2 separate regions of the Homo sapiens genome follow, and region 2 is linked to region 1. Evidence: fine-mapped expression QTL. Tissue or cell type: whole blood. Region 1 holds a variant in brackets; the other region holds the start of a gene. All regions are shown on one strand. Distances are from middle to middle.

Evidence for each region. PIP is the estimated chance that this variant, and not a neighbour inherited with it, causes the effect.
Region 2: SEPTIN6 starts here. The variant in region 1 is fine-mapped to the expression of SEPTIN6 in whole blood (TOPMed, PIP above 0.99). The same link has a PIP of 0.9 or more in blood mononuclear cells.

The regions. Positions count from the first base shown.
Region 1 is chrX:119,633,952-119,642,055 of GRCh38, reverse strand. It overlaps SEPTIN6 (septin 6), which reads left to right. Exons shown (of 11, transcript NM_145799.4): 6 at 1,268-1,364; 7 at 4,861-5,029. Among named protein-coding and RNA genes, the nearest start is that of MIR766, 8.8 kb to the left of the region's middle. RefSeq lists enhancers at 2,685-2,734, 3,245-3,364. The variant T/C (reference allele first, on the strand shown) is at 4,780.
Region 2 is chrX:119,689,226-119,697,329 of GRCh38, reverse strand. It overlaps SEPTIN6 (septin 6), which reads left to right and starts at 4,162. Exons shown (of 11, transcript NM_145799.4): 1 at 4,162-4,254. The coding sequence starts at 4,225. RefSeq lists enhancers at 541-600, 4,149-4,278, 5,099-5,148 and silencers at 3,919-3,968, 4,479-4,608.

The DNA.
Region 1 (8,104 bases):
CCTTGGCACACTGTGCACTCTCCGGGGCCAGGGTCTGTGCTTTTTTGCTATTACGTCATTCTTAATGCCTAGCACATATCATAGGAGCTCAGTAAATATTTGTAGAATGGATGAGTGGGCAAATGGGTCAGAATATCTGAGATCATGGCCTGTTTCTGCAGGCAGGCTAAGAAACTTTCCCCATAGGCTCTTTACCTGTTGGTGTAAAGCCCTTTTGGGCAAAGCCCCACCTGGGCTCACCTGGTCAGTAAACATTGATTCCGTGGTTCCATCTGGCTGTGGTGACTTAGCACTTACAAGCTGGCTAGCTCCTTGTGGATTACGGCTCTGTGAGTGTTTCCTAGGCCCCATACTGCCAAGTCGGGGCAGCTCTCTCTTCTCTCATCCATAAAGCCAGGCCAAGCTCCTCATTTTCCCTGTGAGCACCAAGCTCATAAACCTATTTGTCCTTTGCCTTTCTTTCCTCTTTCCCTAGCCCTACCACTGCCATTCAGGAAGTATTTATTAAGCACCTACTATGTACAGGGTACCAGACCATATACTTGAGCCCTTGATCACATACTATCTTATATGACTTGAGTTATGTAATTTGGGCTTCCTCAACAAGACTGTAAGCTCCTAGAGGGCGAGGGAGCGTGTCTTCTGCTGCTTCTGTCTGCCTTATAGCACCTACAGAAGAACCCAGCATGGTCATGTGAGTAAATCCTTGGTGACTTGCCTTCTAGGCTCACAAGTTCAATGTGAGCTCTTTCTCCGGGGAAGGATGAGAACAAGGAGAGTACAGCTCAGTTGGCTGTGTGGTCTCAGTATGGACCTAGTCTTGGGGCTCTTGCATGCCAGGGAGGGAGAAGGGCCAGTGATCCCAGACCCTTTGGTACTCCTTTATCCTCTCTATCCACACAGAACCCCCCTCATTCCACTTCCCCTTCTTCCAAAGGCTCTTCCCCTCAGCAGTAACTATGAATAGCGAATAGTTTGGTAATCTGTGTGTCTGCTTATTATTCTGCTTATTTTCTCTCTTTGTTCCCTATGCATTCAGCCATGTCATTGTTACCCTCTATTGTGAATTTCTGAACAGCAGAGGCTTGGACTAGGCCTCTTATCCTCACATGGTTTGGGAACTTAATAAATGCTTGTTGGTGATGATGACAGTGAGGGACATTGCAGGGTGAGGGCCTGGGGCCCCAGAGACGAACAGCAGTTGGGTTGTGTAACACTCAGTGCCTTTCTTCTGCAGTTCTCAGCTTTCGTTTGCCTTCGGTTTCAGGCCCACCTGCCGTTTGCTGTCATTGGCAGCACAGAAGAACTGAAGATAGGCAACAAGATGATGAGGGCGCGGCAGTATCCTTGGGGCACTGTGCAGGGTGAGTGAGTCTCCGGGAAGGGCTACACACAGGAAGCCCCTTTTGTCTGTCTCTTTGTTTGTCCCCAGCCACTATATGACAAGTTTCTAAATTGTCCCAAGTCTCTGCTCATTCGGCATGGGTCCCAAATAGCCATAGGGGTCACTAGCAAGCTAACTCTGGCTCCATACTGGGATGCTCTGATGGGAGCAAGCTCCCTCTAATTTCTAATGGGAAAGGTATTCCTAAAACACAAGGACTTGCAAGGTAGGAAGGAGTGTGCGAAAAAGCATGTGTTCTTGCCCAAGTGCACCTGAAGAATGTTCACAGTAGTGTTGTTTGTAATGACAAATAATTACAAACAATTCAGATATTCTTTAAAATAGACTGGATAGGCCGGGCACAGTGGCTCACGCCTGTAATCCCAGCACTTTGGGAGGCCGAGGCGGGCGGATCACGAGGTCAGGAGATTGAGACCATCCTGGCCAACATGGTGAAACCCCATCTCTACTAAAAATACAAAAAAAAAAAAAAAAAAAAAAAAGACTGGATAGTGGGAGGGTGGGAGGGGGATAAGGGATTTAAAAAAACTACGTGTTGGGGCTGGGCGCGGTGGCTCACTCCTGTAATTCTAGCACTCTGGGAGGCCGAAGAAGGCGGATCACCTGAGGTCAGGAGCTCGAGACCAGCCTGGCCAACATGGTGAAACCCCGTTTCTACTAAAAATACAAAAAAAAAAAAATTAGTCAGGTATGGTGGCATGTGCCTGTAGTCCCAGCTACTCAGGAGGCTGAGGCAGGAGAATCGCTTGAACCCGGGAGGTAGAGATTGCAGTGAGCTGAGATTTTGCCACTGCATTCCAGCCTGGGCGACAGAGTGAGATTCAAAAAAAAAGAAAGAAAGAAACATACCATTGGATTCCCTTTGTATGAATTCCAAAAGGAGGCAAAACTAAACAAGATATATATTCTTAGGAATGCATACATAAGAGGTAAAACTATAAAGAAAAACAAAGGAATGATAATCCCCAAAGTCAGGAGAAGGATTAAGTCTCTGCCAGGGGAGTTGAGGGATAGAGGGGGATGAGATTGGGAAAGGGCACTCAGGGGCTTCCAAGGTACTGGTAATGTTTAACCTGAGTTGTGGAGACATTGGTGTTAATTTTTCAAAAATTCTTTAAATTGTACATACACATTTCATGCTCTTTGTATGTATGATTATTTCACAATTGAAAAGCAATTAGACATATTGTATTACACTCAGGAAAGTTCCTTCTGTGATCTGCCTGACATATGTTAACTTACCCTCAGGGCTAGTCAGTTCAGTGCACAAGACAAGGCCAAGGATGGCGCTGTGGGTAGAAGAGGTCTCTGGTCCTCAGAGTCTACAGCTAGAAACTGGGCCGTGGCTGATAGGGGCATCGTGTGAAAGAGTGGCTGGTTCTCTGTAAACTCATCCCTACCACTGGGGAAACACCTGAAAGTGGATGGCGAGTTGTCCACATCACATACGAAGGCTGGCATGTTTTAGGACACCCCACACACCCACTGGCAATAGCTGGATTTTCCATAGGTAGGACAAGACTGGTTATCAGAGCTGTGCTAAGTTCTGGTCTTCTCTGCTGTTCGGAGCTGGGGATGCTCCACTAGGAACGTTTGCAAATGGTTTCTGGACCCACAGTGTCCCACCCTGGGAATGGACTTGTGGTCTGAGAAACAGGAACCTGAAGTGAGACGAGGAGAAGCCAGTAGACATGGTTCCAATGACTTATTTCATCTGATGTGGACTACTCTGAACCTAAACAGAAAAGGGGGTTTTGAAAGTTTTTCTTGTAAGTCTAAGTTGACTGTTCCGCTTGAATGAGGAAGAAGTTGTATATTGCTCAGGCAGCCTGCAGGGCCCTCGGAGGCACTCCTTCTGACTCACCATTAGAGATCACTGTCCAGAGATGGAGGAGGAGATGGCATATAGCATAGTCCTGAGAAGTTGTCTTACTGATGTCATCTTTAATATTAGCCTGTGTTCTATGACAGCAGGGGGCTTTATTCCTAATTCAGTGGGTCTTAAGCAGAGGGATTATGTGAGCTGATTCGGGCTTTGGAAAGATTAATGACCACAAGGTAGTCTGCTTCAACTATGGCTGACCCACTTATCCCAGACCCTTCTCTGCCCTCACTACCCTCTTCCAGACCCTGCAAGACAGAATCTGGGGTGATTGCCTGTTCACTTCAGACACCATTTTTCCTACTTGTTCAGGGCAAATACCACCATCCGACACAGTGAAGCCATACCTGTAGCCACCTTGACAAAGTGCTCCTCGTGACCTGGTCCAGCCAGAAATCGATTTTGCTATGACTTGGTCCACATCTGTCATTCTTGACCACTGCCCCAAATTGCAGACCTTTGCTTGCACTCTTTTGAGGAGGGGACTTGTTCACACAGGCCAGAAAGTGGGGTCCCCTTGCTCCTAGTCACCACTGCTACTGTCAGGCCATTATCTACCTTCTAAAGAAACCACCTCCTTGGAAGCTTCTACCATCCAGGTGGGCCATGCCTGCGGTCCACACCCCTCCTTGTCACTGTCATCTATCAATATCCTAGTTCTTTCCCCTTATTCTTTGGAGACTTTGTCACCTCCCCTACATTGCCTGGGTTTGAACCCTAATTCTGCAACTTACTAGCTACATAACCTTGCCTAGCCTCATTGACACTTTGCAAACACCATTCCCTTCTCTGGCTGATAAATTGCTATTCTTCCTTCCAGAGTCATCTTAGAGATTTTCTCTTCGGTGAAGTCTTCACTTTCCCAGGAGTTCTTAGGTTCCCCTCTTCTGAGCTTTATTGCAACTTGGCTATCCCTCTATTTTTGTAGTTGTGCACTGAATTGTATTTGTCTATTTGTATCTATTCTTCCTCTAAACTATAAGCTCCTGAGAGCAAGATTCCATCACTTCGTTTCTGAATTCCCAGTGCCTCACACAATACTGGGAACAGAGATTCCACAAATATTGATTGGATGGATGGATGGATGGATGGATGGATGGATGGATGGATGGATAGATAGATGGATGGATGAGTGGATGGATGGATGGATAGATGGATGGATGGATGGATGGATGAGTGGATGGATGGATGGATGGATGGATGGATGGATAGATGGATGGATGGATGAGTGGATGGATGGATGGATGGATGGACAGATGCATATATGCTGTTGTCCTACAAGTGGTGCAGACCAAACATTCTTTTGAGGGTTCTGACTGCTGAATTTAGATTGTGGTGCTACTGACTGTCTTAATAAGTATTTTTATGATATCACAGTTTTTCATTACTGGCATTTTTGTAACCTTTCATTTACATTTTCAGTAGAAAAGAGAGGAGGTAAATTTGCAGGATCTAAATACACAGATTGCAAGGCAACGTCACTGTTAGACAT[T/C]TTGCCTCTCGTTTCATCCATTTCTGCTTCTGCTGGCCTTCCTTTCAACATACTTTCAATACCCCAAATCCTGCTATGCAGTTGAAAACGAGGCCCACTGCGACTTTGTGAAGCTGCGGGAGATGCTGATTCGGGTCAACATGGAGGATCTGCGGGAGCAGACCCACACCCGGCACTATGAGCTGTATCGCCGCTGTAAGCTGGAGGAGATGGGCTTCAAGGACACCGACCCTGACAGCAAACCCTTCAGGTACCGCTCCTGCCAGCCCAGCCCAGCCCAGCCCAGCTCAGCTCAGCCCACTCAGGTGGTGTGGAAGCCTTCCCCTGGAGAATTCACAGGGGAGGCGAGACACGGGTGCTAAGACCTCAAGGAGCAGGGGCGACTCACTTGCCAGTTCTGCTTGCCTGTTCACCCTTTGCCTCTGCACACCTGCCAGGAGAGCTGTGGGGAGCAGGCTTGGGAAGTACCGCCGCCTTGCTTTTAAGGGCAAGGGAAGGGAGGATGCCCAGAGGACCAGCAAGGCTGATCACCACACACACATGCACGCATCCATGACAGCTCCAAGCAGCTGCGCTGGGGGGAATCCCCAAGCTGGGGCCCTGTTCCACGAGGTGGCAGTTGGTAACTGTCCTCTGCCCCTCTTTCTTCATCAGGCTCCTGGCGCTCAGACAGGTTTCTAGTCTGTTCTTTACCCATTTCCCCATTCTCAAACCCAGATAGGACCAGGTAGCATGCCCTTGCCATGCATCGATGAACTGCAGGCTCTCCAATTGCTGTCCTTAGTGTCTGCATTCAAGTGCAAGTTCTGTTTTGACCGCAGGATGTTGATCATCACTGCCATATTTCTTAAATCAGAATGCTTTTAGAGAAGGGGAATGTTTTTGAAAGCAGGTTATTATGCAGAGAGGAGTAATGCGCCAAGTAGAAGTGTCTGATCTATATGCGTGATGTGTGAAATAAGCCCCACAGTTGAAATTACCACGTGGTGCCCTTTATGGTGGTCAGGCATTAATAAGCAAGTGAGGGAGATGTCTACCAGTTAAAAAGGCTTTCAAAGAGCCTCTGAGATCTTACTCTACCTGTGCACAGCCTAAAGCTGGCCTGGAGTCAGAGCCTAACCAGTCCCTTGGGGATATTTGCTTCAGGAGGGACAGGCTCATGCCCTATATACTGACAGGTGGGGCTGGGGGAAGCCATGCTTGTCTTTTTCTGGTGGGAGCTCCCTGGCTGTCTTCCCCACCTGCAGCTTTCATCTGCATTTGTAGAGGAGTAGGTGTGCCTCCACCTGGTCATTTTGTCTCCTTCCCTCCTCCTTCACTCCATCCTGAATACCTCTGTTTCCTGTGTCTTCGCCTTCTTCACTCCTTCTCTGCCAGCTCCTTCCCATGCTGCATGTAAGCATTCTTGTGCTGAAGAAACTCTCCCTTAACCCTGCTCTTTCTTACCAGCCTCTGTCCTGTCAAGAAGTCCTTGACAGGATGAGGAGAAAGAGTTGTTCTATGTTTACTGGTTCCTCTTCCCCATCTCTCATTCATTCCTCAATCCACTGCAGTCTGGCTTCTGTCCCCAGCATAACCACTCAAATGCCTCTCTCCAAGGCCAGGAATCGCAGACTTGTGGCCAAGTTCAATGTGGCCTTTGGTTTCCATCTTATTTGATATCAACGCAGCACTTTATGCCATTCCCCACTGCCTCCTTGAAATGCTCTCTGCCTTTGGCTTTTCTAGCACTGGCCTGGCTGATTCTATTCCTATCTCTCCTACTATTTCTTCTCAGCCTCCTTTGCAGGCTCGTTTTCTTCACCTTACTCCTTTAAATGTTGATATACCCCCCGGGATTCTTTCCTAGAGCCTCTGCTCCTTTCACTTTCTGTTCTCTTTGCAGCTGGTTCTTTCTACTCTCACAGCCCTAATTACCACCTAGAAGTAGATGGTTCCCAAGCTAGTCTTACTTCTGAGGTCTAAACCCATTAATCCAACTGCATCCTGGATGTCCACTCAGACATCCCATAGAGGACCTCCCCGAAAATCAAGCTCTGTACAAATTCATCTTCTGCCCTCTTAAGCATGTGTCTCCAACATTCCCTGTTGCCATTCATGATACCACCATCCACCTGGTTGCCCAAGGATAATCAGAATTACCTTTGGCTCCTCCCAAGTCCTGGGAGTTCTGCTTCCCTTACTGCTCCCTCCATTCCCTCCCAGCCCTTAACATTAAGATCCTATCACTTCTTCTTTTCTTTTCTTTCTTTTTTTTTTTTTTTTTTTGAGACAGAGTCTTGCTCTATCGCCCAGGCTGGAGTACAATGGCACAATCTCGGCTCACTGCAATCTTGGCTTCCCGGGTTCAAGCGATTCTCCTGCCTCAGCCTCCCCAGTAGCTGGGATTACAGGCGCCCACCACCTCACCCAGCTAATTTTTGTATTTTTATTAGAGATGGGGTTTCACCATATTGGCCAGGCTGGTCTTGAACTCCTGACCTCAAGTGATCTACCCACCTTGGCCTCCCAAAGTGCTGAGATTACAGGCATGAGCCACCACACCTGGCCAAGATCCTGTCACTTCTTACTTGGATTGATGGACAGTCTATCCTTCCCACAGCACAGCCGGAATGGTCCTTCTCATTTTCAAATTGGATCTAGTACTACTTCCTGCTTTAAAACCATGCAGTGTGTACATATCCAATTTTTAAATATGGCATTCAAAGCCTGTTCTCTTCCTCCAGGCTCAGGAACTTTGTCTGCCTCTACTCCACCACTGCCATGGTGCTCTCTGGCCATGTTGAACCATACCTGGCTCCCCAAGAATGTCATTCTCTCTTCACACCTGCTTTCTTACATGCTGCCCTCTTTGGATCACAGTTCCACCTCTTCTTCACCAGGCTATTGCTTTTTTTTTTTTTTTTTTGAGATGGAGTCTCACTCTGTCACACAGGCTGGAGTGCAGTGGCGCAATCTCGGCTCACTTCAACCTTCGCCTAGCAGGTTCAAGTGATTCTCCTGCCTCAGCCTCCCGAGTAGCTGGGATTACTGGCGCCCACTACGACGCCTGGCTAATTTTTTGTATTTTTTAGTAGAGATGGGGTTTCACCATGTTGGCCAGGCTGGTCTCGAACTCCTGACCTCAGGTGATCCACCCGTCTTGGCCTCCCAGAGTGCTGGAATTACAGGCGTGAGCCACTGCACCCAGCCTATCTCCTATTTCTTTAAAAATAAGCTTAGGCCAGGGGCATCTCCCACTAGACCATGAGTTCCTTGATGGCAGGTATGATGGCTGTTGGCTCTAGAGGCTGAGTGACTAGCATCATGTCAATTAGTACTGAGT
Region 2 (8,104 bases), 55 kb before region 1:
CGGCTCACTGCAACCTTCACCTCCCAGGTTCAAGCAATTCTCCTGCCTCAAGTAGGTGGGACTACAGGCATGCGCCACCACACCCGGCTAATTTTTGTATTTTTAGTAGAGACGGGGGTTTCACCATGTTGGCTAGGCTGGTCTCGAACTCCTGACCTCAAGTGATCCACCTGCCTCAGCCTCCCAAAATGTTGGGATTACAGGCATGAGCCGCCACGCCCGGCCCCTCCTCCAACTTTCTGATCTTATTTTTCAGATGGTTCTCAGGGCTTCTCCACTTGAGACTGACTCTACCATCTTTCTCGTTCTCCTATCACAAAGCCACAGTTTCAGGACAAAGCCCTTTCCTGACCTCTTAGCTCCATTTCAGTGCCCTCTTCTCCCTCCCTGCCCCTGAGTTGCTTGCTGCTCCTCTATCCAGTATTAGCACCCCCAACTCCAGCAGTGACCTGTGGAAAGCTGGGCTCCAATTAGGGCCCACTCTTATCTAGCAGGGGTAGCCATTTCTGCTCCCAGGCAGTAGAGTCTGGCTCCACAAACATTGGCATGCTAATGACAGCCACCTGCTTGCCCCTGGGAAGTCTCTGTTTGTTGCAGCTTCTTTAAGGACATGGAAATACTGAAGCCACCTCATTTACATGCTTCTGTTCATTCCTTTACTCAACAAACATTGATTGAACACCTGCCAGACACCATGCTGGGCCCAAGGGACCCCACAAGGAAACATCAAACATGAGCACATACATGTTCATGGAAGCGCCCGGGAGTCCCAAATGACTCTTCATAAAGGGGAATCTTTTGGCTTCACTCATCAACGAGGACAGACATTCAAGGAAGAAAACTCACGAACTGACCACTCATGAGCCCTCTTGCCTCCTCAGCCCTTCCATCTCCCCTGTTCTTGGGAAGGTGACCCGGGACAAAGACTGAAAGGCATGATTTCAGGCCGGGTGCGGTGGCTCACACCTATAATCCCAGCACTTTGCAAGGCCGAGGCAGGTGGATCACGAGGTCAGGAGTTCAAGACCAGCCTAGCCAAGATGGTGAAACCCTGTCTCTACTGCAAATACAAAAAAAAAAAAAAAAAAAAAATAGCTGGGCGTGGTGGTGGGCGCTTATAGTCCCAGCTGCAGCAGAGAATTGCTTGAACCCAAGAGGCAGAGGTTGCAGTGAGTAGAGATCACGCCACTGCACTGCAGCCTGGATGACAGAGCACTCCGTCTCAAAAAAAAAATAAAAAAGGAAAAAAAAAGAAAGGCATGATCCCAGAGAGTTTCCAAACCTCTTTATTGAAATGAATGTTCTGATTCACACGTCTCAGTCGTCGGCCCACTGCACTGAGTGAGATAAGGTATGTAAAGCTAGTGAGCTAACACCTCTCTCCATATTGACACACATACACTCACCATGCATTGAAATACACTGACACACCAACACATGCCAACACACACATTGACACACAGATATACAGACACACAGCTAGCACACACTGACAATACACACGAACACACCGACACATCTACTCACACATCAAGACCAACACACACACTGACCCACACCCCACCGAAGGAGGCTGGAGGCCCAGGCCCCAGGAGGGACTTGTAGCCGCAGGTGGGCAGGTATTGGAGGAACCAAAGGGTCCCAGGAGACTTGAATTAAGCACTTAGTTCAGGTCTTCGAGGTTCAGCGTTTTGGAGGAGGAGGACGCAGTGAGGTTCTGGTAGTCTCTAGGGACAGGAGGGCCGAATGGGGCATATGGATGAGACACCAAGGATTCCGTGCTCAGGTGCCCCCAGCGCTGGGCCGGTAAGTACGGAGCTTCAGTCCGCGAGGAGTGCTAAGGCGGGCGGGGCAGTGCGTGGGGGATTCTCCCGGGAGACCCGCAGCCCTCCAGTCCCCTCCCGTTCCGGCAGCAGCTTTCTGCTCTGGCTTCCAAATTCTCCCCTTTTGTCCCACCACCACCCAAACCCCAAGTCCAGATCGGGGCTAGTGACCTCGGGGCCTTTCAGTCCACCACGCCCTAGCCTTTGCCAGGGAAGAGCCCTGTCCCAGACACCCAGCCTGGAAGCCGCCAGTCACCTCTGACTCCCCGCCCCCATGCGGTTGGGGCCCAAGCCTCACCGTGGTTCCTCAGATATAGCACTGGTCCCCCGTGTCACTGCCAACCCAGTCCAGGGCTCAGGCCCTGCCCCAAAGCTCCAGAGAGTCTGAAAGACTCCAGCTGCCCCTCTTCCTTGCCACCGCCATCCGCCCTATGGCCTGCGCCTTCTGTCTCGCGGAGCTCCTCTGCGCTGATCCCTGATTTTGCCAGGCTCTTCTCTTTAGGCCGCTCCTGGGTCTCCAGCACAATGAAGGCGCACAGTGGCGCTCCCTGAATACTTGGCTCTTCATGACTGTCCTTACTGCTATTCCCTCACTGTGTCTCTTCTTTCTTCTCCCCGCCCCCCTCGCACGCATCCAAGTTCTCTGCCCTCAGCTTAATAGAGTGCCTCCTGACTGCGAGGCCCTGCACTCGGCCCTGGGATGCGTTTGCTGAGTCCTTGTTCTCCAGGCGCACAGGGTACATACATAAAGGGCTTCCCGAGAGAGTGTGAGAAGCTCCATCCAGCAGGTGGAACCAAGTGCCAGGCATGCTCTTCTTTGGCTACTCCATTTTCTTGTCTTCCCTGACTTCTCCGAGACCAGGGCCTCTGGATCGAGTCCCTTCTTCCTCTCTCTCCCTGGTTCCTTCTTTTCTTTTTCCCTCTCTCCTGCCTCCTCCTCAGCTGCTCCAGCCTTGGGCCTTTACGGGGTCATCTTCCATGCTCCATTGGGGCCCCCTCTTGGGCCCGGGTTTCCTCCATAGCCTTGTCATCCCCTCCCCCATCTGGGGTCCCTCTGGCGGGCCCAGGTCTCTCTCCCACACCAGGGAACCTGCCCTTTTGAGGAGTGGAATGTACTGTCCCTCCCGCTGGGGCCTCGGGCATGCCAAATCTGCCAGCGTGCTCCAGTGACAGGGAGCTAGCAAGAGGCCAGTCCCAAGAGAGAGGGGAGGGCGCCAAGGCCGGAGAAGTGGAGAGGTGCCCACGAGAGAGGACCCGCGGAGGTGGGCCACGGGGATAAGGAGGGCGGGCGGGCGCACCCCTGCCTTCGGAAGTTCTCTCCTCTGCGCCCTATTGGCCGCCTTGTCCCGGGCTGAATGAGGGTCAAGGAGAAATCAGGGGGCGGGACAGAGTGACTGGAGGCCGCTCCCCGTCACCCGCCCCTCCATTTCGCTCCATAGAGCTGAGAACCTTCATCTCCAGCCCTTCCTCTGGTACTAGAAGGGGTGGGTGGTCTTGCTGAGCGTCTAGGGCTGGGTCGGAGAGAGGAGGCGTGGGTTCCGTCTGTACTAGGTACCCAAAGGTGGTGAGCTTGGCTCCACGAAATTACAGCCCACAGCACCCAAGGCTTGGAAACCCCAGGGCAGAAGCAGCGTCTCAAGACCTCTAGCCTCGGACCCCACATGCCACAGCTCAGCTCAGTTGCCGGGCTGCAGTGCGGCTCCCCCCACGGGCCCCCTTTCTAAGCTCTACTGTGGAGCGGCAGGTGCCGCAGGCCTCCCCGGTACCTCGGCCGCAGCTGCGCTCCCGGGCCATGGAGGGAGGGAGACACGACAGTGGGGCATCGAGACTCCAGCGGCCAAGGCGCACCCATCTAAGCACCTTGGGATCTCGGTGGAAAGGAAGGGGGGTAACGGGGGCCGGGAGGAGAACTGCAGAGCTCGGCCGCTGAGCAGAGTATGGGAGGGGGGAGGGGCGGGGGCTCCCTTCCAGCCTTCGGGGTCTGGGGACTTAGGGATGTAAAGGAGAGCAGGGGGGTGTGACAATTCAGCAGAGGTCGGGACGTACCACGGAGCCAAGTGGCGGGGGGGGCAGAGGACGTGGTCACCGAGGGGAGCCCCCGCCCCCCTTCGTAGAAGCCTATGGCTGGGGTTGCAGGAAGAACTGGAACTGGTCTGGCCATAGGGGGAAGCGGCGCGTTAAATCCGCCCCCTCTCCATACCCTACTTTCAAGGGGTGGGCGGTAGAGGGGAGGTTGGGGTTGGAGCAGCGGCGAGGGGGCCCCTCCCTTGCACCTCCCCCCACCGGACTTGGTCGCGCCCGAAGTGTAACACTTTCTCTTTGTCGGAGGAGCTCCTCTGTTTCCTGTGCAGTAGCTCCCGTTGCGGCGGCACCCGTGGCAGCCCTGGCGGACGCAGGAGCGATGGCAGCGACCGATATAGCTCGCCAGGTGGTAAGTGCAGAGCTTGGGTGCCAGGGCCGGGGCCGAGGGCCTGGTGAGGGTCAAGGAGACCTGGCCGCCGCCGCCACATCGCGAGGAGGGCAGTGGGCAGCATCCAGGAGCCAAGGGCACGGTGGGACTTCTGCTCCCGGGGTCAGCAGCTCAGTCCCTCAGCCTGTCCCGGAAAACGGTGGTGGCGCGCGGGGGGCGGGGGGCGGCAGGGGGGCAGGCAAAACCTGCGGGCCGGCGGCTGAACTTGCATTGCCCAAGAGCCGCAGTGAGCGCCACCGCCTCCCTCGCTGCAGCTGCGGCCCCACGGCTGGGGCGTTGCCGAATGAATGGCCGTAGGAGCCGCCGAGCCCTCCGGGTCCCTGGCACCCTGGCCTTGCCGCGCCCCTGCGCACGGCTGCCCGTTGTGACCCGGGACCGCACAGGCAAAGAGGCGCGGGGCTGGGGTTAGCCTGGGGCAGAAGGCGGTGAGTGGCGAGGGGGGCGGGGAGGTGACTGGCTGGGATAGGGTTTCTCTATATGCATTACATATGTGACTGCGTCTGTGTGTGTATCGGTGTGCGCGTATGTGTGCACGCGCGCGCGCTCGTGTCTTCCCGGGCGGGCGGCGGCGGCGCCGGGGTTCTGTCTGTGACCCAAAGAAGTCCGCGTGTTTCTCTGAGTGTGCTCACCTCTGTGGTGTGTGTCCGAACGCCTCTCTGTCTGCTTGTGCTGTGTGCCTCTGGGTCTCATTTGTGCGTCAGTGTGGGGTGCAGTTGGCTGGCCTGTAGGTGGCTGGCTGCGTATTTTGGCATGTTTTGGAGCGGGCCTCTGAGGATCTGTCTCGGGTGCATGTTCAGTGTAACTGGGCTTGTGTGCCAAAACCTGTGGAGCTGGCTTCTTTCTATGGAGACTCAGGAAAATAAGTGTGAGACTCGCAAAAGCGGTGCCGTCTCTTTTTTTGTTGGCGACCGACTCTGGGAAAAAAAAAATCTTCATTTAAAGAACTGAAGTTTTCCAGCCTGGGATGTGCAGAGAAACCATGTTGAAGTGACCTGAGGCTCCATGTTTGTTTTTTAAACCAGAAGTTTGGTTGCAAAGGGCGATGAATTCCATTTGGGGGGGACACCCTAGCTATTCTATTCATCCATGGGTATCTGGGACTTTAATAAGCCCACCAGCACCCCGAGGTGAGGAAGGAGTGGGAGACAGAGGTAGGTCAAATCCCATGACACCACATACTACTTGACGAAAATCTCTGAACCACATAAAAATGTTTTTCAACCTTGTAGCTTACTTATTTAGGAAAATAGTTCATGCAATGCAACTACAGTACAAAAAAAAAGCCTCTAGGTATTTGGTGTAATTGAAATTGATTTTACAAAATCTGAAGCCAGAATCTGATAATATTTTCTCTACAGAATATGTATTAATGTCTCTTTTGTCCCTGTTTGGAAGGGCAGGATCATTTCTTCGGAACCTCCTCCACCCCCTGCACACCCTAGCACAGAGCACTTTATGCAGTCATGTTGTGGAAGGACCAGGAGTAGACAGGGGACATTCTCTGTGATGATGCAATTTGAGAGAATTTTCTTCCCCCAAGATTGGCACTCTCGTTGTTTATTGCTTTAGTGTTTTGAGGGCTCCCTCTTTTCTGCTGTGGCTTTTCTGCTCCTGGTTACCTGCATTTCAGAGATGGTATAGCTGAAGTAGAGGAATTAATCTCTGGGATTACACTAGCTCCATCCAAAAATGACGCTAATGATTTTTCATGTCAGCTAATGAATTTGCATCGACCTGTCCTCCATACTCTCACCAGTTTCTCTTGCCTGGATTAGGATTGCAGGGCAGATGTTGCAATGGGGAACATTCCAGAAGGTTGTGTGTGTTTCACCTCAGGCACAACTCAGGCAACCTAGAGATGCCCTTTGTTCTGCAGATGGGGGTGAGGGGGTGCTTTAGGGCCACTTGGTTTGCTTTGCATGGCTCCAGTTTGCTCTGGCTGGCCTTGCCATACTGTATGATGAAGAACATAATTGTACGCCAGATTCTGAAGCTGAAAGAGCAGCCTAAGCACTCGAGACCTTGTTATCGTGATAAATGGGTTTCTGGGAAAACTGACGTCACTCTCCATGCCCCCCTCCCCCAGCCAGTGAAGCTCCTGTTTATGTGTCATTTGTCTCTCTGTTCTCCTTTGTGTCTGCAATAAGTTGTAATTCACCAGGGAAGACGGAGTTAACTCAGGAGACCTTGGACATCTGGTTGCTGCTTGTTTCCTCCAAGGAACATGTATTCAGGGTTTGGGAACAGAAGACTAGAGAATAAACCTAAGTGTGGCTAGCTTAGGAATTCTTTTTTTTTTTTTTTTTTTTTTTTGAGACGGAGTCTTGCTCTGTTGCCCAGGCTGGAGTGCAAGTGGCATGATCTCGGCTCACTGCAACCTCAGCCTCCCAGGTTCAAGCGATTCTCCTGCCTCAGCCTCCCGAGTAGCTGGGATTACAGGCACCCGCCACCACACCTGGCTAGTTTTGATATTTTTAGTAGAGGGGGGTTTTCACCATGTTGGCCAGGCTGGTCTCGAACTCCTGACCTTGTGATCCACCCGCCTCAGCCTCCCAAAGTGTTGGGATTACAGGCATGAGCCACTGCTCCCGGCCAGGAATTCTTTTTAATGAGCTCTGAGACGTGGTACCATGCGAGTAAGTGCCCTAGTGTGTGTGTGTGTGTGTGTGTGTGTGTGTGTGTGTGTGTATGTGTATGTATGTGGGGGGTGTGTTCTTTCTAGAATCAGTTGAGAGTCACTGTGGGTAAACATCCTTAGTGACTAAAACAAGCCTTCAAGTTGTTGGGTAGGGCTTACATTGCACGCAGCCAACTTGGAAGTTCAATTCTGGTGCACATAATACAAGTCCGTCCCATTTGAATGAACACCACAAACGGTTTGGTGTGACAACACCATTTCTCCACTGTGTCCATATTTACTTGATTGACTGATATGTGGCCAGCACTATGGTTAGCCCTTGTCAACTGGACAAAAAAAGGTAGCAGGCTTTAAAAAACGTTCGTGATCGGACTGGGCTTGGTGGCTCATGCCTGTAATCCCAGCACTTTGGGAGGCTGAGGTGGGCAGATCATGAGGTCAGGAGTTCGAGACCAGCCTGGCCAACATGGTGAAACCCCGTATCTACTAAAAATACAAAAATTAGCCAGGCGTGGTGGTGCGTGCCTGTAATCACAGCTACTCAGGAGGCTGAGGCAGAAGAATCGCTTGAACCCTGGAGGCAGAGGTTGCAGTGAGCCAAGATTGCACCACTGCACTCCAGCCTGGGCAACAGAGCGAGACTCCATCTCAAAAAAGAAAAAAAAGAGGCCGAGGTGGGTGGATCACAAAGTCAGGAGATCGAGACCAGCCTGGCTAACATGGTTAAATCTCATCTCTACTAAAAATACAAAAAATTAGCCAGGCGTGGTGGCGGGCACCTGTAGTCCCAGCTACTGTGGAGGCTGAGGGTGTGAACCTGGGAGGCGGCACTTGCAGTGAGCCGAGATCGTGCCACTACACTCCAGCCTGGGCGACAGAGTGGGAATCCGTCTCAAAAAACAAAACAAAAAAAAGTTCGTGGCTTTTAAGCTTATAGTCTAGTTGGAATGACAAATTGTGGACACTGTGAAATAATTAAAGAACTATAGAAGATCCTTGTGATGCCCCACCTCACCCCCTGACTATGAGGTGGCTTGGGCTGCTATTAATATATATTTCGAGAGGTTCCATGACTTGTCCAAGGTAACCAAGGCACAGGGCAAGCCCCAAAAGCTGCATGTGCTGGCTCTTTTAATGAGCTGTTCCTTTCAATGTTGCATTCTGGGATCCAGA